Homo sapiens: one gene and its partners. The protein of the gene in region 1 interacts with the protein of each later gene in a pairwise test. Each region holds a gene or a part of one and is shown in the gene's direction. Other genes may lie near its edges.

What was found.
Region 2: the proteins of COX20 (region 1) and TEX44 interact in binary tests that used the Homo sapiens proteins (3 or more experiments, as listed by UniProt).
Region 3: the proteins of COX20 (region 1) and CHIA interact in binary tests that used the Homo sapiens proteins (3 or more experiments, as listed by UniProt).
Region 4: the proteins of COX20 (region 1) and GOLT1A interact in binary tests that used the Homo sapiens proteins (3 or more experiments, as listed by UniProt).

What each region holds. Positions count from the first base shown.
Region 1 is NC_000001.11:244,838,654-244,845,595, forward strand, and holds the end of COX20 (cytochrome c oxidase assembly protein COX20, mitochondrial), read left to right. Parts: intron 1-3,290; coding exon 3,291-3,405; intron 3,406-3,541; coding exon 3,542-3,605; intron 3,606-4,387; coding exon 4,388-4,523; 3' UTR 4,524-6,404; downstream 6,405-6,942. UniProt on the Homo sapiens protein: Essential for the assembly of the mitochondrial respiratory chain complex IV (CIV), also known as cytochrome c oxidase.
Region 2 is NC_000002.12:231,588,381-231,594,796, forward strand, and holds TEX44 (testis-expressed protein 44), read left to right. Parts: upstream 1-4,483; 5' UTR 4,484-4,571; coding exon 4,572-5,759; 3' UTR 5,760-5,896; downstream 5,897-6,416.
Region 3 is NC_000001.11:111,307,851-111,314,850, forward strand, and holds part of CHIA (acidic mammalian chitinase isoform c precursor), read left to right. Parts: intron 1-2,549; 5' UTR 2,550-2,617; coding exon 2,618-2,642; intron 2,643-3,838; coding exon 3,839-3,868; intron 3,869-4,339; coding exon 4,340-4,541; intron 4,542-6,689; coding exon 6,690-6,746; intron 6,747-7,000.
Region 4 is NC_000001.11:204,203,974-204,211,015, reverse strand, and holds part of GOLT1A (vesicle transport protein GOT1A), read left to right. Parts: intron 1-7,042. UniProt on the Homo sapiens protein: May be involved in fusion of ER-derived transport vesicles with the Golgi complex.

The sequences.
Region 1 (6,942 bases):
GGATAGATGCCTCACTCAAGTGAGTTAAAGGGAGAATGGGAGGTTTTAAGTAGAAAAGCACACCTACACTCAGAAGTTTTGCCCCAAAAGGATGGTGGTTTAGGTGGCTGATGAGAGGAGAGGGGTGTATAGAGGATTTTTGGGTTTTTTTTTTGAGATGGAGTCTTCTTGCTCTGTTGCCCAGGCTGGAGTGCAGTGGTGCCATCTTGGCTCACTGCAACCTCCGCCTCCTGGGCTCAAGCGATTCTGCCTCAGCCTCCCGAGTAGCTGGGATTACAGGCATGTGCTACCATTCCTGGCTAATTTTTGTACTTTTAGTAGAGACAGGGTTTTGCCATGTTGGCCAGGCTGGTCTCGAACTTCCGACCTCAAGTGATCCACCCACTTTGGCCTCCCAAAGTGCTGGGATGACGGGTGAGCCACTGCACCTGGCCAAGAGGGCTGATAGTAAATTATTGCAAGTGAAAAAACTAACGATGCAAATGAAAGGGGTAGCTATAGAAGCCAAGCCCTTGAGTATGCAAGAGGGGAATCAAGTGCCCAAGTGGGAAGACTAGCATTAGATAGGAATAGGGCCAATTCATCCTTTGCAACCAGAGGAAAGAAATACGGGCACTGAAGCAGATTTAGTGGTGGAAAATCAACTGTCTCTAATTTGATCAGATCTATTTCTATACATTATTGACATTCTGGCTTGGAAATCTCTTGAGCTTTCCTTAGATTGATCAGGGTGAGCTGGTAAAGCTGCTTTTCTAAATCTAAGCTTAAAAAATGTCTGACATTTCCTTAATTTATTTTTAAGGGTTCCCGTTTGTTAGTGGCAAAGAGTTAAATCTTAAGTATGCAGGCTACTTAAGGAATAGAAGAGAAATGTTAAAGGCATGTATATTATGAACAGAATATTTCCGTATATAAATAGAATACTTCAAAGGGAGTTATGCCCGGGATCCTTTATTCATCTCCACTTCTGAGCATTTTACAGTTCAGTGTACTTAACTGTAAAGGTATACAGGCTCAAGTCGTTGCATATTCTTCCTGTTTTGATAGAAATTGCAGGGATTTATGTACTGAATCTTATTACTCCTTAGATATGTGACAACTGGAAAGCTCCCCACCAAACCCTCCAGCCTTGGTTACTTCTTAATGATGTGGTTTGGCACAATGAAAATGTCATAGGCTTTGTGGTGAAACTGACTTCTGCCTCCACTCCTGCCAACACTTATTATTAGCCTCTTAAGTCCCCGAGCCTGTTTCAGAGGTAATCTCACACAAAGGCTAGAGAATTAAAAAACATGTAGAGAGCCTGGCACTAATACCTACCTCCCCCACCAGCAGCTCTTAATTATGAGATCAACCACTATTATTTTAGACCAGAGTTTTGTTGGGGATTGGGTTTGTTTCAGAAGGCACTATTTTAAATAAGATGTGTAGCTTCTATTTAGATATTTGCCTTTAAAGTCAGCTGAGCTATTTTCCTATTGTTTGCAAATTTACTTTTATTTAAAAAAATAAAATTTCCTAAAGCAGTGTTTCCCCAATATGACAGTCATCAGAAAAAACCACCTAGAGTTTTCTAAACATAGATTCCAGTGATTGTAAATCAGAATCTGAGAGTGGGACTAGAAAATACTTAATTCTATCCTGTGGTACAAGCTGGTCTCACACTTGCATCTTTGCACCTAAGACTAGATCAAACTGGTACTAATCCTCTGGCCCCAGCATCCCATCCTTGGGGAAATAGTCTAGTTTAGAGGTAGTCCTGGACTGGAGCGCTAAGTCCAGCATTCCTCACCTGCATAACACTACCCACATGATCATATGTCCCCTGGGCTCTCAAGCTGATAGGAAAAAGTCGTCTTGCTAAATGAAATCCCCCAACCTCTTGGTAATGTGAAGAACTGTACTGCAAAGCTTTGAAGCAATCCTATGTTAGGCATGCGGGTGGGAACGGGGCCAGACAGAGGGAAAAAATGGAATAGAATGATCCGAGAGTAAATAATTCTTGCTTTATTATGAACCAAGTCACATTTTGTCTCTTCCAACAGATGCTTGAGCCAAAAAAGCAAACATAGGCAGAAATACAATTGAGAATATCTTCATGTTTCAACCTTTAATCTGACTTGCCTTTTACTATCCTTTCCCCATTTCTTCTAATCTCTTTTGCCTTACAATATATTACCTTCTAGGTATCACCTCATCCTATAGAATCCCTTCTAGTTTAATGTCCTGCCCCAAACAATACTAACCCATTGAAGATAACTATGAAACCTTTAAATGGACAGTGGTTCCTTTTAAAAGCAGCCTTACTGAAAATTTTATATACACTTAAATCAAGTAACAGTTACCGTGAGTTTTCTAAACTTTTGTGTTAACAGAAATGCCAGTTCAGCAGTGTGACTGTTACTTTTAAATGTCTGTCTTGCCGCCCTAGAGTGACAGACATCCCAGTTAAACATATTAGGAATAAGAAATACATAAATCCAATGAAGACTGTAGAAAAAGAATTTTAGCACTTGAAGGAACTTCAGTCATTTAACCCAACCCATTCATGTTATAGATTGAGACCATAGAAATAAAAGTAGCCTATAGGATACAAAAGTTAGCGGCAGATCTGAGATAAAAATCCAGCTCTTTGGATCCCCGCGTTTTTCACCACACTTAGCTGTCGTTCCCATGTATTACGAACAAAGAATCAAATATAATCAAGTGCAGCCTCACTTCACAGGCAAGAAAACAGACTAGAGTTTAATATATTGCCCATGTTTATCTTAAGGTGAAACATTTACTCTTACAACCACAGTTGATGTTAACCTAGTTAATAAAATATGAAAGGTAATTACTAGGGGAATTTTAAACGGCACTACATAAGCAAACATGACTCAAATTACTTTTTCCATTTCTGCTTCCCAAATTATTGGAGTTACTGAAGCAAGCTATGCTGCTTTCAATTCCAATGATAGGCATATTCCCAAATAAACTCATTTAAAGAGCTCATAAAATGAATTATCCTATTTCCAAGTCAGTTGATTAGCAAATTAAGATACAGCTCCAAGTTACCCTACTGCTTAAGGGTTTTCCGGTCCAATTTGTAAGGTTTTCGGATTTAAAGATTCAGACTGCATACCAAAGGTGGACAAAGACAACGCAAGCTGATTTAGGTTGTCACGTGGCACATACTCTAGTTTAAACCCTCAACTACAAGAAAAGAAATGGTGTATTGTCATTTTTGCCAAAGCACCCCAAAATGAAATACTTTCTTACTCAATCTAGGTTCTTTTTTTTCATTCTAGTCCCTTAAGCTCCTAGGATTTTTAGATGTTGAAAATACTCCCTGCGCCCGGCATTCAATATTGTATGGTTCATTAGGATCTGTTGTGGCTGGCTTTGGACATTTTTTGTTCACTAGTGAGTATCTGTATTTTTTATTTCTCTATGTACTAAAAAAAGCATTTCTCTACATAATGAACTATTTTTTTTTCTAGGTGGAGTAATGTATATAACGTAATTATATTCTAATTAATTGTTATGCTTATTTTTACAGGTAGAATTAGAAGATCATGTGATGTTGGAGTAGGAGGGTTTATCTTGGTGACTTTGGGATGCTGGTATGTTTGCTAAGTATTCAAGAACATCCATGATTATAGTAGGTTATCTAATTCAAAAAGCACATGCTCTTTTCAGAGCAGTCTCCCATTGGGAGATCCTCACCCTCAATGAAGAATCTTGATTTTTCAGGACATTTTCATGGAAATCTTAAAATGCTTGAACAGATAAATGCATATTAGACATCCCATTAAAAAGAAAGCTGTGGTTTTTACACTTCACTTAGGAAAGCCTCAACCATTTCCCTTACCCTAATACTTATTTCATCCCTGCTTATTCATATCTGAAAATGCTACTTTAAGAATGTGTTTACAACTACTGATGAGTGAATATAAAATATGGATGAACCTCAAATATTTGCCAGACCTAAGAGTATGATATGTATGTACTATATGGTTCCATTTATACATGAATTTCTACAGTGAGCTATTTAAGGTGGTAGAAATCATTTTATGTAGACATAGCATTATTATCCCGTTAAAAACGAGAGCAAATACTTGTTTCTTATAATAGCCAATGCTATCAGAAGACTTAAAAACTAATGGATTTTATCACTTTACAAATTGTTATGTAGACATCCTTTTTTTCCTAATAAAAAAAGAATGTGTTGATAGGTATTCTGACACCAAAACTGCCCAAAAATAGCACTATAAATTAGAACATATTTTTCAGTCTCAGGGTAGTAGTCATCTGTATTTAAGTTTTGTGTGATTTAGAGAAATTTCATAAATTAATTTCTGTAGGACTTTATATTAACAATTTATTCATATTCTTTTCTTCTAAGGTTTCATTGTAGGTATAATTATGCAAAGCAAAGAATCCAGGAAAGAATTGCCAGAGAAGAAATTAAAAAGAAGATATTATATGAAGGTACCCACCTCGATCCTGAAAGAAAACACAACGGCAGCAGCAGCAATTGAACAATCTTGAGCATAGAAGTCAATGTAAACGAAGTTAAGATCAACCACATAAAACATTTCATGTGCAATAAGCTCTCAATCAAGTAAATAAAGTTTAAGTTGTAGTCATTTTTTTCCCACACTTGTGTGGAATGAAAACTTGCCAGTTTATTCTGGCCCTGTGTCTACTGCCAGGATAGCATTCTTACGTGTTACATATAGTGGACTTGTCATCCTTAAAATGTGAACAGAATTTATTGGCAGTGTGGCAAAGAATTATAAAACATAGTGTTTAATGTACTTGGAGTTTCCTTGTAGTAGTAAGTATAGAGTTTGATGATAAGTAAACGTCCCTTAACAAAAACCTCAACCTTATTACTATCCCATTAAAAAACAGCAAATACTTACTGAGTTCTTGTAAGAGCTAATGTCATTGTAAGATTTAAAACTAAGGGCTTTTATCACTTTGCAAATTATTTTTTAAATGCATTCATCATTTGACAGTGTTCTCTCATTTCTTAAAATGCGAGTCATCTTCCAAAAGAGTTGTTTTTAACTGCCCTAAACATTTTTGGGGAAGTATGCAGGGTTTAAATTTTTAAGTATAATTAGTTCTGAATTAAAATATGCACATGGAACTTGTCTGGCAGACTGATGCAATAGTAAAACAACTGCAGAATTACTATTAATGTAAACAATCCATTTGAAAGTCAATCAGCTGCTCCCATTAAAATATTATTTAAAATACAATACCCACAGCATCTAACTAAATCCTCAGGATTTATTCTCCGGGAGAAATTATCCCTTTCTAGGAAAATGAAGTTATTTCTGGTTTTAATTCATACAATACTTTAAGAAAATCTGTTAAATATAACAAAACACAAGCTAGATGCTTAAGAAATGCTTAAAGAAATATTGGGGCGAAGGTAACAGCAGTCAACAGGATTGTGGCCATTACTGGTCCTATTATTTTGATGTACCATGGAAGGCACAGAAATCGAGCAAGGAAGAAAATATTAGTTATTTTGATCTACATCTTTTTCTAAAGAAAAGTGGAGCTTGCCTCCAGTTCAATTCACAAGAGCATTTTCCCTCCCATGCCCACCTTTTCTTGTGGCTGTCGCTAGGAAGGATGCAGAGGCTGTGTGGTTTACCAAATGCCTTAACTTAGCAGTGAATGACAACTGTCAAACACATGTTGAGGGAAAATTTTTACTGATTCACAAAAAGGAAGACAGTTTGCCCACTCTTAGTGGCACAAATCAAAGCTGCATGCACTACATTATCCAAATTAGTCGTAACCAAATAGTTAAAAAATTCTGCTGGGCACGGTGGCTCATACCTGTAATCCCAGCACTTTGGGAGGCCGAGGCAGTTGGATCACCTGAGGTTAGGAGTTTGAGACCAGCCTGGCCAACAGGGTGAAACCCTGTCTCGTCTAAAAATACAAAAATTAGCCGGGCGTGGTGGTGCATGCCTGTAGTCCCAGGTACTCAGGAGGCTGAGGCAGGAGAATCACTTGAACCCGAGGTGGGGCAGGCGGAGGTTGCAGTAAGCCAAGATCGCGCCATTGCACTCTAGCCTAGGTGACAGAGTGAGACTCCATCTCAAAAAAAAAAAAAAATTCCATAGGATGTTCAACCATGTTTTCAGAGGCCGCACTGCATGAATGCGGGAAAATGTTGATGATCACTAATCAATAATCTGATATTTAACAAAATATGGACAGGCCACTTATGCTCAGTTTTACCTTAGTTATTCCTTGGTATCCACAGGCCCAAGTCCCTTTAAATAAAATACCCTCATATTTCCATATAATCTACATACATTCTCCCATATACTTTAAATCATCTCTAGATTACTTATAATGTCTAATACAAAATAAATGCTATGTAAATGTAATTATTATACTGTGTATTTTTGTTGTTGTTCTTCATTGTTATTTTTTGTCTTTTTACCTCCAGTATTTTCAACCCACAGTTGGTTGAATCCAAGGATGCAGAACTGGAGGACATGGAGGGCTGACGTGTAACATACATAACATATAAAACAGGTCCCTTCCAGCGCTAGCACACTGCAATTACATCTTACCCTGAATAAGAGAGAAACTCTGTTTTGGCTGGTAAAATTTCCAATGTCTTCACCAATAACAAAGCTCATTTTCACAGAAGTTTGCATAAACTGGAAACCTGGATAAAAACAAAGTTGTAACATATTTGGTTGGATTATTTTTTAAATGTTTCATGTATTTACATGATCACTAATAATTTTTATTCTTATGCTATTAAGATTTTACAAGTGTATTAATAAATTACCAAAGTCTGTAACACCCACCCTCAATAAGGAGAGACTGGTAGAACGAAAGTCTCTCCTATCAATGTCTACCCTACCATCCAACTTCACGTCCAAACTATTTAGTTTTTTGCCAAACCTTCAATGC
Region 2 (6,416 bases), on another chromosome or scaffold:
AGGAGTTCAAGACCAGCCTGGCCAAGATGGTGAAACCCCGTCTCTACTAAAAATACAAAAATTAGCCAGGCTCGGTGACAGGCGCCTGTAATCCCGGCTACTTGGAAGGCTGAGGCAGGAGAATCGCTTGAACCCGGGGGCCGGAGGTTGCAGTGAACTGAGATCGTGCCACTGCACTCCAGCCTGGGTGACAGAGTGAGATTCCATCTCAAAAAAAAAAAAAAATTAAGTCATATATAGGTTTTTATTTCCTGGGTAAAGATAGGGAGCGGGGAGAACTTTCTAACTAAAAGCAGGGAGCTGTGTGGGGTGTGGGGCTTTGGAGTCAGGCAGATGCCACTGACCTTGCTATGTGCTTGGCTTCTCTAAGCCTCAGTTTCCTCATCTGAAAAATGGGGAAATAACCCCTGCCCAGCGTCAGGCCTACTGACACTCAGTGCCATATGCTACTCTTGATTGTTTAGGACTGGAAGATATTCAAGCAAACACGGACCAACCACTTGACAGGGATCTCATAACTGTTAGAATTGGATTAGGATTACGTTTAGCTGCATGTAATAGAAAACCAAAAATAATCATTTGGGCACATATAGTGTTATTTTCCCTCACATAAAGGAATTTGAGAGGTTGGCGATAGTCTGGTCTGGTGGCTGCCGGACAGCTCCAATCATGGGACCCAGGGTCCTTCCATCCTTGCTTGGTCCACCCTCTTACTGTGTGCCTTCCACCCTCAAGATTACCTAGAGGGTTGCTAGACCAGTCCTCTTGCTGGACCAAGAGGGTTGCTGTTGCTCCAGCCTTCACATTCCTGATAGGGGGAAGAGCAAAAAGATGTTAAACTCTTTGAAGGATCCTTTCTGAAGTTCGACTCAATACTTTCTGCTTACTTCTCAATGGCCAGAACATGGTCACATGTTCTTACCTACCTGCAAAGGAGGCTGGGAAATGTGTTCTTTTAGCTAAGACACAGAGGCCCTGAATAAAATCAGGGTCCTGACACTAAGTGTCAAAAGACAAAATTACAAGTTTAGTTTAAAGCTCTCAATTGGCTTTGTGATTCTAGAATCAGGCAACACTTGATTTCCTAAAATAGAATAAGGGTTCCAATGAATCAAGCAGTGAAAGTTGGCTTTATAGACAGGAAGAGGGTGGAAAAAAGCAGAAACTAAAAACAAAAACCAGGCTAGGTGCAGTGGCTCACACCTATAATCCCAGCACTTGGGAGGTGAGAGGTTCGCTTGAGCCCAGGAGTTAGAAACCAAGCTGAGCAACATGGCGAAATCCCATCTCTACAAAGAATTTAAAAAATAGCCGGACATGTTGGCACGTACCTATAGTCCCAGCTACTCAGGAGGCTGAGGCTGGAGGAGTGCTTGAGCCCAGGAGTTCAAGACAGAAGAAAAAAAATTAAAACGGAGGGAACTTCATTATCGTGCCACTTGAAGATTGAAACTGGCCTGTTTCTGTCATGTCAGCACTTTGGGAGGCTGAAGTGGGCAGATTCCTTGAGCCCAGGAGTTCGGGACCAGCCTGGGCAACATGGTGAAATTCCATCTTTACAAAAAGTAAAAACAAAATTAACTAGGTGTGCTAGAATGTGCCTGTATTCCCAGCTACTTGGGAGGCTGAAGTAAGAGAATTGCTTCAGCTCGGAGTTGGGATCACACACTGAACTCCAGCCAAGGCCACAGAGCAAGATGCTGTCTCAAAAAAAAAAAAAAAAATACCGGGCGAGATGGCTCACATCTGTAATCCCAGCACTTTGGGAGGCTGAGATGGGTGGATCACCTGAGGCCAGGAGTTCGAGACCAGCTTGAGCTGAGGAAAAAGAATCGCTTGAACCCGGGAGGCAGAGGTTGCAGTGAGCTGAGATCACGCCACTGCACTCCAACCAAGGCAACAGAGCAAGACTCTACCTCAAAAAAAAAAAAAAAGAAAAAAGAAACTGGCCCATTTGGGAAACTGGCAATCATCTCTGTCTCCCGGTGATTTGGAACCTCAGTGTGAGTGACCCCATCTTGACGTTTAGTCCAGTCTGCTGGGGCCTGGTGCAGGAGCCTCATCCGAAGCAGTAGCCTCCTATAATTTCTATTTAGCAATTGTCTGACACTAAGGAAGAAGGTCATCTGGGATGGGCAGCCACCATTCTCTCCAGGACTCCTTTACAAGCTACAGGCTGTACTCATCGGCCCCTCACACTCCAACAAGCCTGGGTTTGCCCTGTGACCTCTGAGGTGGCGGCAGGGTATCTGCGGGGAAAATAAACACTTAGTGAGCAAGGAGCCTGGTGTCAGTAGTGCCGCCAGCCTCAGAGGGTTAAGGTGGAGGCTGGCTGGGCGGAGTCAGTAAAAGGAGTGTGAAGGGAAGGCCTGATCCTGGGAGAGGTGGAGGAGGGAGGGAGCCAGCCCGGAGAGGCAGCAGGATAGAGGACAAGGGCAGAGAGTTTCAGGGAGGGGAATTTTCCATACACTCATGACCATGCTGCTGATGGTGCAGCCCAGCACTGGCAGCAGCTGTCACCTGCTGGTGTGGTGGAACCGGTTCTAATGGGAGGCCTCTGTCTGCATCTGCCAGCATCATTACCATGCCAGTCATTAGATATATCTTTTTTCTTTTTTAAGGCACAGGATCTCGCTCCGTCACCCGGGCTGGGATGCAATGATGTGATCACAGCTCACTGCAGCCTGGAACTCCTGAGCTCAAGAAATCCTCCTCCTGGGCCTCAGCCTCCCCAGTAGCTGGGGCTACAGGTGCACACCACCATGCCCAGCTAATTTTTGTTTTATTTTTTGTAGAGACAGGGTCATACTACGTTGCCCAGGCTGGTCTTGAACTCCTGGGCTCAAGCGATCCTCCCACCTTGGCCTTTTAAAGTTCTGGGATTACAGGCATGAGCCACCATGCCCAGTCCCTCATTCAACGTTTTTAATATCCCTCCTGGGTATGAGAGAGTGCTGGAAAGCTTAGTATTGAAGCCAGACAGGGTTCAAATCCCAGATTCAGCTCTTATTAATAGTGTGGCTTTGAGTAAGTCGCTTATTCTCTGTGAGGCTCAGCATGCCTGTGTGTAAACTGAGTATACTAGTAGAACCGTACCTACCCAGAGGTGATGGGTGATGAGAAGGATGCTATGCGCCCTTTTCTGCCCATAAGCAGTCACTAAATGTTAGCTGATAACCCCTGGAGAAGCACAGACACGACCGACTGAGCCTTCCTCTCCAAACATCTTCTTAATGTAGGCATTTTTTTTTTTTTTTTTTGAGATAGAGTTTCGCCCTTGTTGCCCAGGCTGGAGTGCGATGGTGCGATCTCGGCTCACCACAACCTCCGCCTCCCGGGGTTCAAGCGATACTCCTGCCTCAGCCTCCCGAGCAGCTGGGATTACAGGCATGTGCCACCACGCCCAGCTAATTTTGTATTTTTAGTAGAGACGGGGTTTCTCCATGTTGGTCAGGCTGGTCTCAAACTCCTGACCTCAGATGATCTGCCCGCCTCAGCCTCCCAAAGTGCTGGGATCACAGGCATGAGCCACCGTGCCCAGCTAAGCACAAGTAGGTGTATCTGGGGTTATCCTTCTCCAAGAAACACTCAGAGGTCTGCAGACCTTTTGTTATTCTCTGCCCTTCTAGTCCAGATGAGCAAGGAGAAGATAGAGATTTTTGCCCTACATCAAAAGGGTTAAACCCACAGCCACAAATGGAGCTGCCCAGGCCCTTGGCTTTTGCTTATACCTACTCACCACTGCTGGGAAACTGATTCCCTGCAGGAACACTGACTAAATTGGGGGTGGTTATTTGTTGTTGTTTGTTGTTGTTGTTGTTTTGTTTGTTTATTTGTTTTGAAACGGAGTACGCTTTTGCCCAGGCTGGAGTGCAATGGTGCGATCTCGGCTCACTGCAACCTCCACTCCCTGGGTTCGAGCAATTCTTCTGCCTCAGCTTCCCCAGTAGCTGGGATTACAGGTGCACGCCAATACGCCCGGCTACTTTTTGCATTTTTAGTAGAGACAGGGTTTCACCATGTTGGCCAGGCTGGTCTCGAACTCCTGACCTCAGGTGATCCCCCCACCTCAGCCTCCCAGAGTGCTGGGATTACAGGAGTGAGCCACCATGCCCAGCCTAAATTGGGGTCTTGAGGCACCAGTGTAGACAGAGAGGTGCCAGGAGGGGTCCCTTATAAACACTGTTCTAAATCAACATCTGCATCCCTTCTCATTTGTCAGAGTCACAGCTGTCACTCCTCCTGTGTCCCTGTGGTTGTACTTGCCCCTGTGCACACGCCTCCAGCCCTTTCAAGAACATTTGTCATTTTTTCCCTATGTACCTGCAAAGTTGGCAACAAACTGTCCCATAGACTTAGCCCACTTGGAAGGCTGCTCCAGAAGCTCAAGACCCTTGCTCTATGGGTACCTGTGACATCACCAGTGGCCACAGTCCCTTGTGACCTCACCACTTGGACAACTCAGCCCAGCTGGGTTGCAGCCACTCCCTCCAACCGCCACAAGCAGCAAAGGGCATAGATGACCACAGGAGAGCCCTAGGGGGAGGCCGGCTCCACCAGCAGCCCCATACATGGCACTCCCAGGGTACCCCCTGGGCAACGTGGATGACAGCAGGTCTAAGGACAGCCCAGCAGGAGAGCCCCAAGGTCAGGTCCCACTCACAGCAGATGTCTTGGCAGTGAGCAGCTCTGTCGCATCCACTGACTGGCAGGATATAGATCAGGCCTCCTTCAAGACGGCCACCCCCAGGGCCATATCAACATCTGGAGACAAAGACAAGAGTGCAGTTGTTCCAGAACACGGCCAGAAGACACCCAGAAAAATCACACCTCTGCTTCCCAGCCAAAATCCAAGTCCCCTGCAAGTGTCTATGAGCCTTCAGAATCCAGCGTGGGACAGGCAGGTTCAAGACGCAAGGACAAGTCAGAGTCTAGTGGTTTTCCCAAGTCACCTCCTGGGTAAAGACAAGATGTCACAAATGGCGAGTGTTCCTGAGAGAGAGCCGGAGTCAGCCCCCTCTGCCCCGAGTGCTGAGCTACAGTCCACCCAGCACATGGAGGCTCAGCCCGTCGAGAGTGATGCTGACCATGTCACAGCAGGTGCCAATGGCCAGCATGGCCCTCAGGCTGCCAGCACCACCAAGTCTGCTGAGGAGAAAGCTGAGCATCCAAAGGCCCCACACCCTGAAGCTGAAGCTTTACCATCTGATGAGTCCCCAGTGGCAATGGGGGCAAATGTGGTGGACAGCTTAGGAGACCTGCAGACTTGGTTCTTCCCTCCACCTCCAGCAGGCAGTGTGTCCCCGTCGCCTGGCCCCCACGAGGTGGCCCTGGGGAGAAGGCCCCTGGACTCCAGCCTGTACACGGCCAGTGAGGAGAACAGCTACATGCGCTCCATGACCAGCCTGCTGGACAGGGGCGAGGGCTCCATCAGCTCCCTGGCAGACATCCTGGTGTGGTCCGAGACCACCATGGGCATGGCCATAGCCACAGGCTTCCTGGATTCCGGCCACAGCACTGTGGCAGACCTGCTGCACAGCTCGGGGCCCAGCTTGCGCTCGGTCCCCAGCCTGGTGGGAAGCGTCAGCTCGGCCTTCTCCTCTGGGCTGGTGTCAGGGACCAGCTCAGCCCTGCGCACCATCACCCGTGTGCTGGAGACAGTGGAGCAGAGGACCGTGGAGGGCATCCGCTCAGCCATGCGCTACCTGACCAGCCACCTCACCCCACGCCAGGCCCAGGCTGACCCCAACTATGATTAGAGCCCTGCACAGGGACCCCCGAAGGGCTGGTTCAGTGGCCTCCAGAGATCCCTGGGACCCTCACGCCCTGCTCCCTTGCCCATTCTTGCTCTGGACGGTTCCCCCAGCCCATGCAATAAATCACCAGTGAGCATTTATTTCTAAGCACCAGCCTCCTCCCTTGGGGTGCAGTGAGCAACACGGTGACAGGACAGGAGGGCTCGGGGTGCGGTGGAAACAGCGTCCCCTGAGGGTTTCTCAGGCTGTCCCATTCAGGGGCTGGGGGCAAACGTGCAGAGAAGAACCTGGACAGAGCTGGAGGCAGTGTGGCGGGGGGTGTCTCAGACCTGCAAAAACCCATCCCTACTGAACCTCCACCCAGGTAAGCTCCTGAGGAGCCTTCCCAGGGGCCTAGGCTGGCCTGGCGGGCTCAAGCTGAGAGGCAGAAGAGGCAGTGCAGTTGACAGTACTGAGTCACACCATGTGGGTTCAAACCCCAGCGCCAGCACTTGCCCTGGGCGAATCACGTCACTCTCAGCCTACTCAGCTGTAGAAAGGAGAGAATAAATCCATACCATGACACTGTTATAAGACAGAAGGGAAGCGATGCAGGCCATAATGCATGGTGTCTGGCACTTGATAAGCCCACACATGGTGGCTGCCATTATCATTATCCTC
Region 3 (7,000 bases), about 130 Mb from region 1:
CAGCTGGTCTCAAACTCCTGACCTCAGGTGATCCACCCGCCTTGGCCTCCCAAAGTGCTGGGATTACAGGTGTGAGCCACCAGGCTTGGCCATATTTTTCTTAAAATGTATACCTAAACTCATGTGTATGGTAGATTTTACAATTAAAGAAACTAAAAATAATACAAGGTTATTGAAAACAATAATGTAAAAGGATACACATGGTCACAGTTTAAAACTATTCATTCTATGACTCATAAACGCAGTAATTCTTTCCAATAACCAAGTGCTCAGATGGGATGCAAGTTTGCTGGGGCTCTTAAGGAGCTATTAAAAAGAAATGTTTAATCTGTAGGTCATGTCATTTATTTAGAACTGGGGATGCCAAATTCAATAGAAAATACCTCACTAGCTATAAATGGTAGCTACACCCTATAGTCCTGAATACGATAAACCTGGAGCTACTGGCTTTGCTGTTTGTTTTTGCAAATCCTTGACTTTGATTTGACATTCTCTTTGGCTCAACTGTATTCTCTTGACTACCTTGGGAAAATGCCTCACTCAGTTTAACTTGGGCCAAAAGCTTGCGTACTTAACACAGGGATCTGGATCTGGTGTTTAATAGCTGATTAATTTTCTCATCAGCAAAATTGGTGTGATAGTAATAATCCTCTTTATAGGGTAAAAGAAACAATAAAGTCAAGCCCTCTGATGATAGTCATTTTTTTTAGTCACTCAGCTTTACTTTTTATTCTTTTAGAATTTCATTTTGTGACCAGTCCTTGTGAAAATGTAAATCCAAGTGCCCTGCCCTTTCCCTAATTGAGGGTCTGGTGTCATACAACAATATGCTTTTTCCCCAGGATTTAATTCTTGTCATTCATAGATGGAAAATAAAATTGGAGTTTATTTCTCCTAAGCCTTCCTCCCACACCCCTCCCCATAGAAAGACTTGGTTTCTATTGTATTAGAGGCAGGTTCTGTATTCTTTTTGATTCTGTGAGTTTCTTCATGTCTTTCAAATATATTGATTTGTGCTTCTTAGAGTTGGTTTTGATTGCTTACAAAATTAAAGCCTAAGTGATATAAGCACCAAATACAGTCTCTGGCACATAGTAGGCACTTGTAGTGTTTGTTGATATGATTATTTTCACAATTGAAATGTTCCCTGAACAACACACACTAGGGCCTGTCAGTGGGGGTGGCACGAGGGAAAGCATCAGGAAAAATAGCTAACGCATGCTGGGCTTAATATTTAGGTGATGGGTTAATAGGGACAGCAAACCACCATGGCACATGTTTACCTATGTAACAAACCTGCACACCTTGCACATGCACCCTGGAACTAAAATAAAATAAAAATTTTTCCTGGCAGCACTTCTATTAGACTTTCTCTGGTTCTGAGAGTAGAACAAAACACTTAACCTACCAATCACAGGAAGAATGGATACAATTTAGTTTCCAAATGTGATAAATGGATAAACCTGTCTGGACTCACAAGAACTCTGCTAAGGTGCTGAAATCCCATAATGATCACCCATATTCCCGCCAACTGCATTCCTGGTATTGTCACAAGACAGCATCATATAAGCAATACAGAAAATATGTGCTAGAGTACATAAAGTAAATCAAAAGAAGGAGAGAGCATTAAGATAGAAAAGATCTGAGTTGGACTTTGAAGAACTGCTAAGATTGGGATAGGCAGTGAGGATAAGGAGACACTGCAGGCAAGACATTACAGGCAAGGAGTGGAGGGATACCTTGAGCAAAGACATGCAAGGCATGTTTGAGGGCAAAGAATAGTCCTTTGGCCAAAAGAGAAATGTATTATAGAACAATGGTAGTGAATTATGTTTGGAAGGGGTAGATTGGAGTTAATTTAAATACAAAGTTCCAGAAACGGTCAAGTTGCAAATATTTCTATGAAGAGACTCATTTCAATATCATCTATATTATTTCTATCCATTAGCAACGCAGTTTTTAGGGGATGTAATTTGAAACTACAGAACACTAGAGAGTTCTTGGTGACCTTTATAGGGGACATTTTGAGATCCAAACATTCTTAGATAAAATTATCATTTAGTCATGACTTGAAGCCATTCCAAAGAACATGTGTGAGTAGAATATTGAGAGAGTAGCACCTAAAGAAGGAAGATTTCTTAGGCACTGATTGTACAAATTACATATGAATAATTCCATGAGGAAAAAAAGGTTTAAGAACAGCTAATAACTTCCAAAGTTTCTTTTTATTTATTTTTCCATAAAGACTTGCTTTGATGCCAGACACAAAATGTCCACAATAGAAAATCTGACCACAGTATCTAAACAGTTGCTTATCAGCCCTTGGAACTGCCAAAAAAGCTATTAAACTGGTGTTTTCCATGGTGATGGTCTCCACCACCCTGTTAGGAGCCATGACATTGTTCTGTCCTTGTTGGGCAGAGAAGGTGGTGATGCTGGTGGTGGGAGGGTGTAGGTTGAAGGTCTTGGGAGGGTGTTTGTAGAAGAGAAGGTCCGTTGATTTACTGATTAACTACATACACATCTGGGTCAAATTGTTCTCTATTTAGAAGCCTTTGTGATAACCACAGAATCAGAACATATAAAAAGCTCTGCGGGACTGGTGCTGACTGCAACCATGACAAAGCTTATTCTCCTCACAGGTGGGTTTGTAATCAGAGATTGACCCTTCATCTTATCTAGTTTCTTTTTCTCTCACAGGCTCTGAAAATCATGAAGTGGTCTTCATACTACATCCCTATACTTTTCCATTCTTCTTTCATCATTTCAAATTTCAAATGAATCTTGTTATATACAAATCAGTCTGCCTCTTGTTCTCTTAACTTCAACTGACTCTGGTAACATTTCTGCTTTTGTTAATCCCATGGACCTGGTCCTAAAGGAAAAGCATACTTTCTCCTAGTGCTAGTCTTACTCTTTCATCTTTTGTTCAGCCATTCATTTTTCTTTACTCTTCTTCCTACGCCATCTCATTTTAATTGGAATAATGTTTATTTATTTGCTTGTGTCCTTGGACTAGCTTTTCTGGGGAAGAAAATCAGTAGGAACTGAGATAGAGTTATGCAAGTTGTCTTTGTTCTGCTGTTTTCAGAATTATTTCTCTATTTACTCCCCTATTATCCTACTGAGTTGATGATGTACCATAAACATGTTAGAAATTAAATTATTCAAAGAGGTTGATTCAGTAAGTTGTTTAGAGACAAGTCATACCAAGAATTTATTAGTTGCTCTAGAGCTGGGATTTGCAAACTGTTTAAGCTTCAGAACCTTTTCCAAATGAAACCTCAAGCTCAATTTATAAAACAATCAGAGTAGAAGAATTGCTTTGTAGAAGTCAGGGAAAGGTATCTGGAGTCTCACCCCATAGTTCCTAGCTCTTCTCTCCTCATATAAGGCCTCCTGAAAGTCATTCCAAAAAACCACTAAAGGCCAGAAGATACTGAATTCTCTGATTTAGCAGATGCCTTATCTGTTGGAAGGCTGTGTTCTATCACTCAGGTAGGGGAAGAACGAATGGATGTGTCATCATTGACTACAGTGATCAGTTGGTGATTTCAGTAAGTACATCTTCCATAGATAGTAAACTTCGGACTCAGCATTCAGGAACATTTATTTGTGACAAGAAAGGTGTGAGACGAAGGTACCACGGTCATTTTTGATAAAGGTGGGGAAAGGTAGATCTACTGTTGTATTCACTGAAAAGCCTTTGGAATCACCACCAAATCTCACTGAGGTTGTAACAATTTATGGCAAATTGGAAGGCAATCAATCCTTCAGAATTAGATTCTACGGGGTACAGACAATCGGTTCAAAGTACATGCTTTTTCTTTCTATCCAGGTCTTGTCCTTATACTGAATTTGCAGCTCGGTAAGTCATGGACTCCATGTTTTATCATTGAATGTATATATACGAGATAAACCATACTATGGAAAGAGAGCCGCTGTTTGCTTCACAGACAGATGGGTTTGATTTGGGAGTAATCTAGTGTTTTGGATTGGCTGTCACTGCTATCCTCTTCAGCATGACCATCTGAATTATAAACTGGTACTCACTGGGCTTCATAGGACTATGGGCATCTTTTCTTAGAAGGCTGCTAGCTAGGCTTATCCAAAATCCCAAAATGAGTCTGTGAAAGTTAAAAATAAACAACTCCAAGTTAGTGACCAGTTCTGAGTTAGAATCTTAGGATGCATTTGCAAGAGTGTTCATACTAATTACCTCCACACAGAGATCAGGCATCTGAGGCACAGGGAGGGAAACAGAGGCAAGGCCAAAACTCACAGCACACTTCAGTGGATCCTAAACCAGGCCATTGTCCCTCCTGCTGACTACACACAGGCTCTGCCTACCAGCTGACATGCTACTTCACCAACTGGGCCCAGTACCGGCCAGGCCTGGGGCGCTTCATGCCTGACAACATCGACCCCTGCCTCTGTACCCACCTGATCTACGCCTTTGCTGGGAGGCAGAACAACGAGATCACCACCATCGAATGGAATGATGTGACTCTCTACCAAGCTTTCAATGGCCTGAAAAATAAGTAGGATGAGGGAGATATTTAATTTGGCATCCCCTTTTTCAGTACTTCCCAAACATTAATGCTTCTTAAAATGTAGTTCAGATCCATGGATCTGAGATGGGGACCAAGACTCTGCATTTCATTTTTCTTTTATAACTGACAAAAATTGTATGTGTTTACTATGGACAATGTAATGTTTTGAAATATGTATACGGTGCGGAATGGCTCAATCGAACTATCAACATATGCATTTCCACAAATACTTAATGTTTTTTGTGGTGAGAACACTTAAAATGTACTGTTTGCAATTTTCAAAATACAATATATTGTTACTAACAATAGTAACCATGTTGTACAATAGACCTCTGCAACTTATTCCTCATTTCTAACTGAAATTTTGTATCCTTTGACCAACATGCCCCCCAACCCCCATCCCCACACCACCCCCAGCCTCTGCTAACGACCATTCTACTATATACTTCTATGAGTTCAACTTCTTTTAGATTCCACTTATAAGTGAGATCATGTGGTATATGTCTTTCTGTGCCTGGTTTATCTCACTTAACATAATATCCTCCAGGTTTATCCATATTGCTGCAAATGACAGGATTTCTGCCTCTTTTTTAAGACTTAATAGTATTCATTGTATATAAAGACCACATTTTCTTTGTCCATTCATCCATTGAGGGGCACTTAGATTGATTCCACATCTTAGCTACTGTGAATAGTGCTGCAATGAACATGGAAATTCAGATATCTCTTCAACACACTGATTTCATTTCCTTTGGATGTAAACCCAGTAGTGTAACTGCTGGATCATATGGTAGTTATTTCTTTGATTTTTTGAGGAACATCTATACTATTTTCCATAATGGGTATACTAATGTTCATTCCCACCAACAGTGGGCAAGAGTTCCTTTTTTTTCCATGTCTTTTCCAACACTTACCTTTCATCTTTTTGATAACAGCCATTCTAAGCGGATTGAGTGGTATCTCATTTGATTTTGATATGTATTTCTCTGATGATTAGTGATGTTGAGCATTTTTTATACACTTGTTGACCATTGGTATGTCTTCTTTTGAGAAATGTCTTTTCAAGTCCTTGGCCCATTTTTTAATCAGGTTATTTGGTTTCTTACTACTGAGTTGTATAAATTTCCTATATATTTTTGATACTAACTAACTCCTTACTTGACATATGGTTTCCAACTATTTTCTCCCATTCCATAGGTAGTCTCTTCACTCTGTTTCCTTTGTCATGCAAAAGCTTTTTAGCCTGATGTAATCCCATTTGTCTATTTTTGCTTTTGTTGCTGCACTTTCCAGTCATATCCAAAAAATTCTTGCTGTAGCTCTTGGAGCTTTTTTTTAAGGTTTTCTTTCAGTAGTTTTACAATTTGAGGTCATAAATTTAGATCTTTAATCCATTCTGAGTTGACTTTGTTCAGTTTAGTCATATTTAAGAGAAGGAAAGCTACAGGTGATTGCTACTATCAGTAATGGCATTATCGTGAATACAGCTACTAGAATTTAAGTTACAATGACTAAGAGTAAATAAACTCCTTTACGGCAGTGTTTCTTGAAGTGTGCTCCATTGACTACTTGCCTCAAAATCATGTGAGGTACCTGAGTAAGTGTTAGTCCCTACTGCAATCCAACCGAATTGGAATCTCAGGGGAAGGGGCGATAAACCCAGATTTTTCATGTTGTCCTCCCACAACCCTTGCACTTAATTATTATGTATGTTAATGTTTGGGAATCTCTATTCAAGAGAATGTGTATAATTTCAAGCCAATTAATTTATTTTAACATTACAGAGGCTAAAAATGTAATTAAGCTCAAGCAACATTTACCATTTTATCTGATAGAATAGAATATTATATTAGCTATTCATGTTTTTTAAACTTACACAATCAAAGATACTGCCAACACACAATATTTTTTAAAGCCCAGTTTCAAAATTTAGATTTCCCTAGGGAACCCTGAGTGCATTCATGACAGGAACAACACAAAGAATTTTTATAAAGGAAGTTTTCAGTAGGGGAGGAAAATTGTTCTACAAAAGGCAAAACAAAAATATCTGACCAGATCCAACACTAAAGCAATGTATTTTAAATGGAGGGAGTCCTGACTTTTGAAGTTTATCTGTTTCTATCCTTTGTTTTACAGGAACAGCCAGCTGAAAACTCTCCTGGCCATTGGAGGCTGGAACTTCGGGACTGCCCCGTAAGTCTTCTATGGAGAGCATGTTGTTCGTTTGCTATGGAAAACAAGTTAGCCCCATGTGATCACTGTCCCTTTAGACTTCACAATCTAAGACAGGGTATTGAGGATGTACATAAACAAATATATGAATTAAATATATTGCTACACCAGAACCTCATTATTAAGTGGAACACAATTTATTTCATACATTTAATTTGGTGGACATTTGGGGGCCCTATCCACAGAGGTTTACTTACTGAGGTTCCCAAACAACC
Region 4 (7,042 bases), about 41 Mb from region 1:
CTGTGGATTTCATGGGGGAGGGGTGGGCTTCTGCGTTAAGTGGTGGGGTGGGCGGTGGTGACATGTTTACTCATTTGAGGACAACCAAGGGAGGCACAAGTTGAAGGAGGGAAGATAAATAGACCAGTTTGGGATTGAAGATTAGCCCAGTTCAAGATGGCTGAGAGAAAACCAGGCAGATATGCCAAGTAAGCAGCTAGATATGAGTTTCAAAGCCCAAAGAGAGGCATGGACTAGAAAGAGAGACATCAGTGTCATCAGCATACAAGGGAGGTTTGAAGACGTGAGAGGCTGGGTGTGGTGGCTCATGCCTGTAATCTCAGCACTTTGGGAGGATCGCTTGAGGCCAGGAGTTCAAGACCAGCCTGAGCACATTGCAAAACCCCTGTCTCAACAACAAAAAAATTTAAACCAATTTTAAAAAATTAGCTGGGCATGGTGGCCAAGTGCCTGTAGTCCCAGCTACTCAGGAGACTGAGGTAGAAGGATCCCTTGAGCCCAGGAGTTCAAGGCTGCAGTGAGCTATGATTGTGCCATTGCACTCCAGCCTAGGCAACAGAGCGAGATCCCAGCTTTAAGACAAAATTAAAAACAAAAATAAACACATGGGAATACATGTGGAAATAGAATGAGAAGAGAAGTGAGCTTGGGCACAAGCCCTGTGCAATTCAAATCCCAAGAAGAAGAGAGAGAAGTAGGAGCTGGCAGAGGAGACAGAGAAAGGGCAGTTAGAGCAGTAGGAAGAAAATCAAGAACGTGTTGTGCACAAACCAAGAGAAAGGCTGTTTCAACACGGCAGTGGTCAGTTCTAACAGATGATGGTTCACACCTGCCCATTGGATCTGGTAACATGAAGGTCATTAATGGCCAAGGCAAGAGCATTGCCTGCAGAAGTGGACTGGACTGGGTTGGTTAAAGGCACTTTTTATTTTTTGTTTTGTTTTGTTTTTGGTTTTTGAGATGGAGTTTCACTCTTGTTGCCCAGGCTAGAGTGCAATGGCATGATCTTGGCTCACTGCAACCTCTGCCTCCCGGGTTCAAGCGATTCTCCTGCCTCAGCCTCCCAAGTAGCTGGGATTACAAGTGCCCGCCACCTCACCGGCTAATTTTTTGTATTTTTAGTAGAGACGGGGTTTCATCATGTTGGCCAGGCTGGTCTCGAACTCCTGACCTCAGGTGATGATCCACCCACCTCGGCGTCCCAAAGTGTTGGGATTATAGGTGTAAACCACCGTGCCTGCCCAAAAGGCACTGTTTGGAGCTCAAGACTAAGTTCAAATCCTGCTTCTGCCAGCTGCTGTGTATCCCCAGGCAAGTGACTTAACCTCTGTGTTTCAGTTTTGTTTGTGAAATGGTGCTAATAGTAGTACCTATGTCACAGGTAGTTATGAAAATTAAATGTGTTAATATACTTAAAGCATATATGTGCTTAGACTGTGCCTGGCCCAGTATGTTCATTACACTATCAATCACTATTGCTAATTTTAAAAAGTGAATGAGGCTCTTTCTCTCCTTATTTCCCTCCTTCCTCTTCCTGAACAATTCAGTCTTAAAGCCATTAGGTTTAACACAGAGAAGGCGGTGCCCAGAGTGGGGTGTTAGAACCCCAGCAGGGTGAGAAGGGTGTTCACACTAGGGGTGGCCTGGTACAAAGTATCATAGGCAAAGCATCCCCTGCAGGGTCAGGGATGGGGTGGTGAGGGGCCTGGCAGATACTGCCTTAAGAATAAAGAAACATTATCAGCTATGGGGCAAATTGACATCTTGCACCACCTACCAGGATGCAGTGAGAAAAATACAGCATCACATCTTGTGCTATTTCTGCCTAAGATGCATAACCTGAAGCTAGTCGTGAGGAAACATCCGACAAACCCAAATGGAGGGATGGCTACAGAATAAGTGGCCTGAATCTTCAAAAGTGTCAAGGTCATGCCAAGGAAAGACCAAGGAGCTGTTCCAGACAGAAGAGTTTAAAGAGACATGATCATTAAATACCACACAGAATGATGAACTGGATTATTTTGCTATAAATGATGCTACTGGAGTAACTGATGAAACTTAAATGGAGTCTGAGGGTTGGAGGATAGTCACATATCAATGTTAGTGTCCCAATTTTGATGGCTGTATGTTGGCTGTTTAGGAGAATTTTTTGTTTGCTTGTTTATTTCAATAGGTTTTTGGGGAACAGGTGGTTGGTTACATGAATAAGTTCTTTAGTGTGATTTCTGAGATTTTGGTGCACCCATCACCCGAGCAGTGTACATTGTACCCAATGTGTAGTCTTGTATCCTTCAGCCCCTCCTACCCTTTCCCATGAGTCCCCAAAGTCTATTGTATCATTCTTATGCCTTTGCATCCTCATTGCTTAGCTCCCACTTGTGAGTGAAAACATATGATGTTTGCTTTTCCATTCCGGAGTCACTTCACTTAGAATAATGATCTCCAATTCCATCCAGGTTGCTGCGAATGCCATTATTTCATTCCTTTTTGTGACTGAGTAGTAGTTCATTTTTTATATATATATATATATATATATATACACACACACACACACAAGTATACATATATACACACATATGTATACATATACACATATGTATACATATATACATATATGTATACATATGTGTGTATATGTGTATAGATACACACATATATACATACATGTGTGTATATATGTATACATATATATGTATATGTGTGTGTATATATATACACATCACAATTTATTTATACACTCATTGACTAATGGGCATTTGGGCTGGTTTCATATTTTTGCAATTCCAAACTGTGCTGCTAGAAACAGGCATGTGCAAGTATCTTTTCCGTATAATGATTTATTTTCCTCCGGGGAGATACCCAGTAGTGGGATTGCTGGATGAAATGGTAGTTCTACTTTTAGTTCTTTAAGGAATCTCCACACTGTTTTCCATAGTGGCTATTCTAGTTTACATTCCCACCAGCAGTGTAGAAGTGTTCCCTGTTCACCACATCCACGCCAACATTTATTTTTGTTTGTTTGTTTTTTGATTATGGCCATTCTTGCAGGAGTAAGGTGGTATCACATTGTGGTTTTGATTTGCACTTCCCTGATCATTAGTGATGTTGGGCATTTTTTCATGTTTGTTGGCTGTTTGTATATCTTCTTTTGAGAATTGTCTATTCATGTCCTTAGTGTCCAGGAGTTTTAAAAACCACACCAGAGCATTCAGGGGTGATGAGGTATGAGGTGGCAACTACTTTCAAATGGTTCAAGAAAAATATTCTTTGTACTGTACTTGCAAGTTTCCTGTACATGTGTGATTGCTTTAAGAAAAGGAAAAGGGGGAAAAAAGACGATGATGTTCTGAGACTCACTGCGTGCCTGAGGCCAGAAGGACTCATCTGCCTGCTCCATGAGATATTGTTTTCTTGGAGCTGTAGCTGATTTCTGGAGCAAGAAAGACATTGAACCTGGCTTTTCTTAAAGTGAGCCACAAAATGGGGAGTCAGGGAAGCCTGGCTTGTCCGTATCGGGTGGCCATGGGCTCTTCTTGGCAGCAACTCGGGAGTTGCAGAGCAAGGAGCTAAACAAGGGCACCAGTGCAGCCATCAGTGTACCTTGCCAGGGAGATCTAAAGCTGGTCTCTGAGGTCTGGGGAGGTCTCCACTTCTAGGTGGCGCCTGGAGAGCCGGGCCTCCCTGAAGTTACCTTGGCCTCCCAGCTTTTTTCGGCTGGGTGTAGGCGTGACAGCCCTGGCCGCCTCCAGCAGAGGGCGCGCTGCCCAATCTGTCTGGATCACGGGGACCGTGCCGGGCAGGCACACCTGTCACTCCTGGGGGCATCTGTATGACATCCCCACCCCTCCACTCTTTCTGCCATGGTTGCTGCCTGAAAAGAACTTTAGGAGTAACCTCTGGCTGGATAACTTGACTAAAATAGCTAAGCTACTCCAGAAGCAAGAGGCAAAGGCGGGTCTGAAGCTTGTGTGTGAGAAACAGAGTTTCTGACCCTTTTCTGTGGGGTTTCGTGTCCCACTGAGCACTGAGAGCACTAAGTGTGGCCCATAAAGAAGGCTGCCCCCATCACAGGAGAGTCCTGGAATTGCATCTGCCCTTAAAGAAGAGTGTAGAACAGGTGGAGGAGGGATAACTATGGCAGCCAGCAAATCACTGCTGCAGAAGAAGAAGGAATAAACAGGAGAATGGACATCATGTGTGAATGTGAGAAACTTACGCTGTTTCCACAAAATGAGTATGAGGCTGTTCTTAAGTGTGTGCAGGATGAACATATAGAAAGTTCAACAAAACGAAATGAAAACCCCGTAAAATGTGCACATCGTGTTTCCACACAAATACACCTACTGAGGGGGAGGAAAGGGTGTATAGTCAGAGCTGAAATCAATGACAGATGTTTTTATGGCAGGCATAAGCCAACAACAGATATTTTATAACAAGCATAAAAACCTAAAACACTTTTATCATTTGGGTTAAAGAAAGATGACTGTGGTCTTCCTCCACAATATTCTGACCTACACGAAATTATCTTGGTAATTCAGGTAGATGTAACTCTAGATTCTCAATGTGTTGTCTCTGAGGATGGAAATGTTGACAAAACACAACCTTCATCATGACCCATGGGGGTGATATTCTGCTGAGCTGTCCCAGCTTCTAAGAGATTTAATTCAGGCCAGCAGGAGGAGGTAGAAGTAGGAAACAAGCCCAAATAGATCACGAGGCTTGTCAGGAACACAAGGAATCAGCTTTTAGTAGAAAATGGATTCTGGGCAGCTGGGTGATATGTTGAGAGAAATTATGTTACACTGGGTCCCAACAAAATCCAGCTTCTGCCAAAAGTGAGATCCAGTAAGACTGGCATGATACCAGACTATGAGTTGAGCAAGGTTTCAGTCTATAATTTGAATGCTAGATCTTATCACTGTATTTTTCTGTTTTCTTTTTTTTTGAGATGGAGTTTTGCTCTTGTTACCCAGGCTGGAGTGCAGTGGCATAATCTCGGCTCACTGCAACCTCCACCTCCCGGGTTCAAGCAATTCTCCTGCCTCAGCCTCCCACGTAGCTGGGACTAGAGACGCATGCCACCATGTCCAGCTAATTTTTGTATTTTTAGTAGAGACGGGGTTTCACCATGTTGGCCAGGCTGGCCTTGAACTCCTGACTTCAAGTGATCCACCCACATCAGCCTCCCAAAGTGCTGGGATTACAGGTGTGAGCCATTGAGCACCTGGCTTCATTGCTGTATTTTTGATGATTCTTTTAAAGAAGCTCTTTGACCTTTTTTCTGTATTGGAATTGATCCTAATCCTCTTAAAATCTGCATAGCAACAGATGATGGATTAACTACCCAGAAGATGATTATGTTGTTTCATTTTCTTTCAGTTGTAAATAAAACTCAGCCAGTAAATCTAGTCTTGATAATTTTGTTTTTGTTTTTACAATTCTGCCTCTAAACACCAGAATAATTTTTCCCCTCACTTTTAACAACTATCTGCAAAAGCATAATAATAATACCAATTTCATAGAGGTTATGAGAACTGATTCTAACAAGTCCAGTAAAATTTTTGACGAGGGCATCAAGACCATGAAATGGGGAAAGAACAGTCTTTCCAACAGATAGTGCTGGGAAAACTGGATATCCACATGCAAAAGATGCAGGTGGATCCTTACCTTATACTATCTGCAAAAAGTAACTCAAAGCAGATCAAAGCCCTAAAAATAAGAGCTAAAACTATAAAACTCTTAGAATAAAAAATAGGGGAAAGCATTACAGCACTGGATTTGATAATGATTTCTAGGTTATGACATGAAAAGCACAGACAACAAAAGAAAAAAAAGACATCAATCAGACTACATCAAAATTTAAAACTTCACCGCATCAAAGGACACAGTCAACAGACTGAAAGGTAACCTACAGAGTGGGAGGAAATATTTGCAAATCATACGCTACATAGTTAATATCCAAAATATATAAAGAACTCCTACAACTCAACAACAAAAAGAACAACCTGTTTAAAAAATAGGCAAAGGACTTAACTAGACAATTCTCCAAAGAAGATATACACATAGCTAACAAGCACATGAAAAGATCATTAATCATTAATCATTAGGGAAATGTAAGTCAAAACCACAATGTATACTACCTTATACCCATTAGCATGGCTGCTATCAAAACAAAACAAAACAGATAAAGTATTGGCAAGATGTGGAGAAATTAGAACTCTTGTGTACTGTTGCTGGGAATGTTAAATGGTGCAGTCACAATGGAAAACAAAATGGCAATTCCTCAAAGAATTAAAAATAGAATTACCATGTGATCCAGTATAATTCCGTTAATTCCACTTTGTGGGGTATATACCTGAAAGGATCGGAAGCAGTGTCTTGAAGAGATATTTTCTTATGCTCATATTTATGGTAACACTATTTACAATAGGTAAGAGATGGATGGAAGCCACCCAGATGTCCATCAACAGATGAATGGATCAACAAAATGCAGGGTACAGATAGCAATGGACTATTATTCTGTTTTAAAAAGGAAGAAAATTCAGACACATGCTACAACATGAAGGAACCTTGAGAACGTTATGATAAGTGAAATAAGACAGTCACAAAAAGACAAATATTGTATGATTCCACTTATAGGAGGTTCCCAGAGTAGTCAAAAATTCATAGAGAAAGTAAAATGGTGGTTGTTGGAGGCTGGTGGGAGGGGAATGGGGAGCTACTGTTTAATGGGTGTAGAGTTTCAGCTTTGCAAGACGAAGAATTCAGGAGATGCGCTTAATACCACTGAACTGTACATTTTTAAATGGTTAGATGGTAAGTCTCATTTTATGTGCACGTTGCCACAATTTAAAACTTAAAAAGGTAACAATTTAAAAACAAAGCAACAGAATGAATTTTTATTTATTGACTATCATAGTGGCAAAGATAAGTAAAATGAACAATTCTGAGTGCTGGAGAGGGTTAAGGAAAAAAGGAACTATATATCCGGTTATTGTACAAATCGTCTTGAGGGGAGCGATCTGAAATATGTTTATCAAAA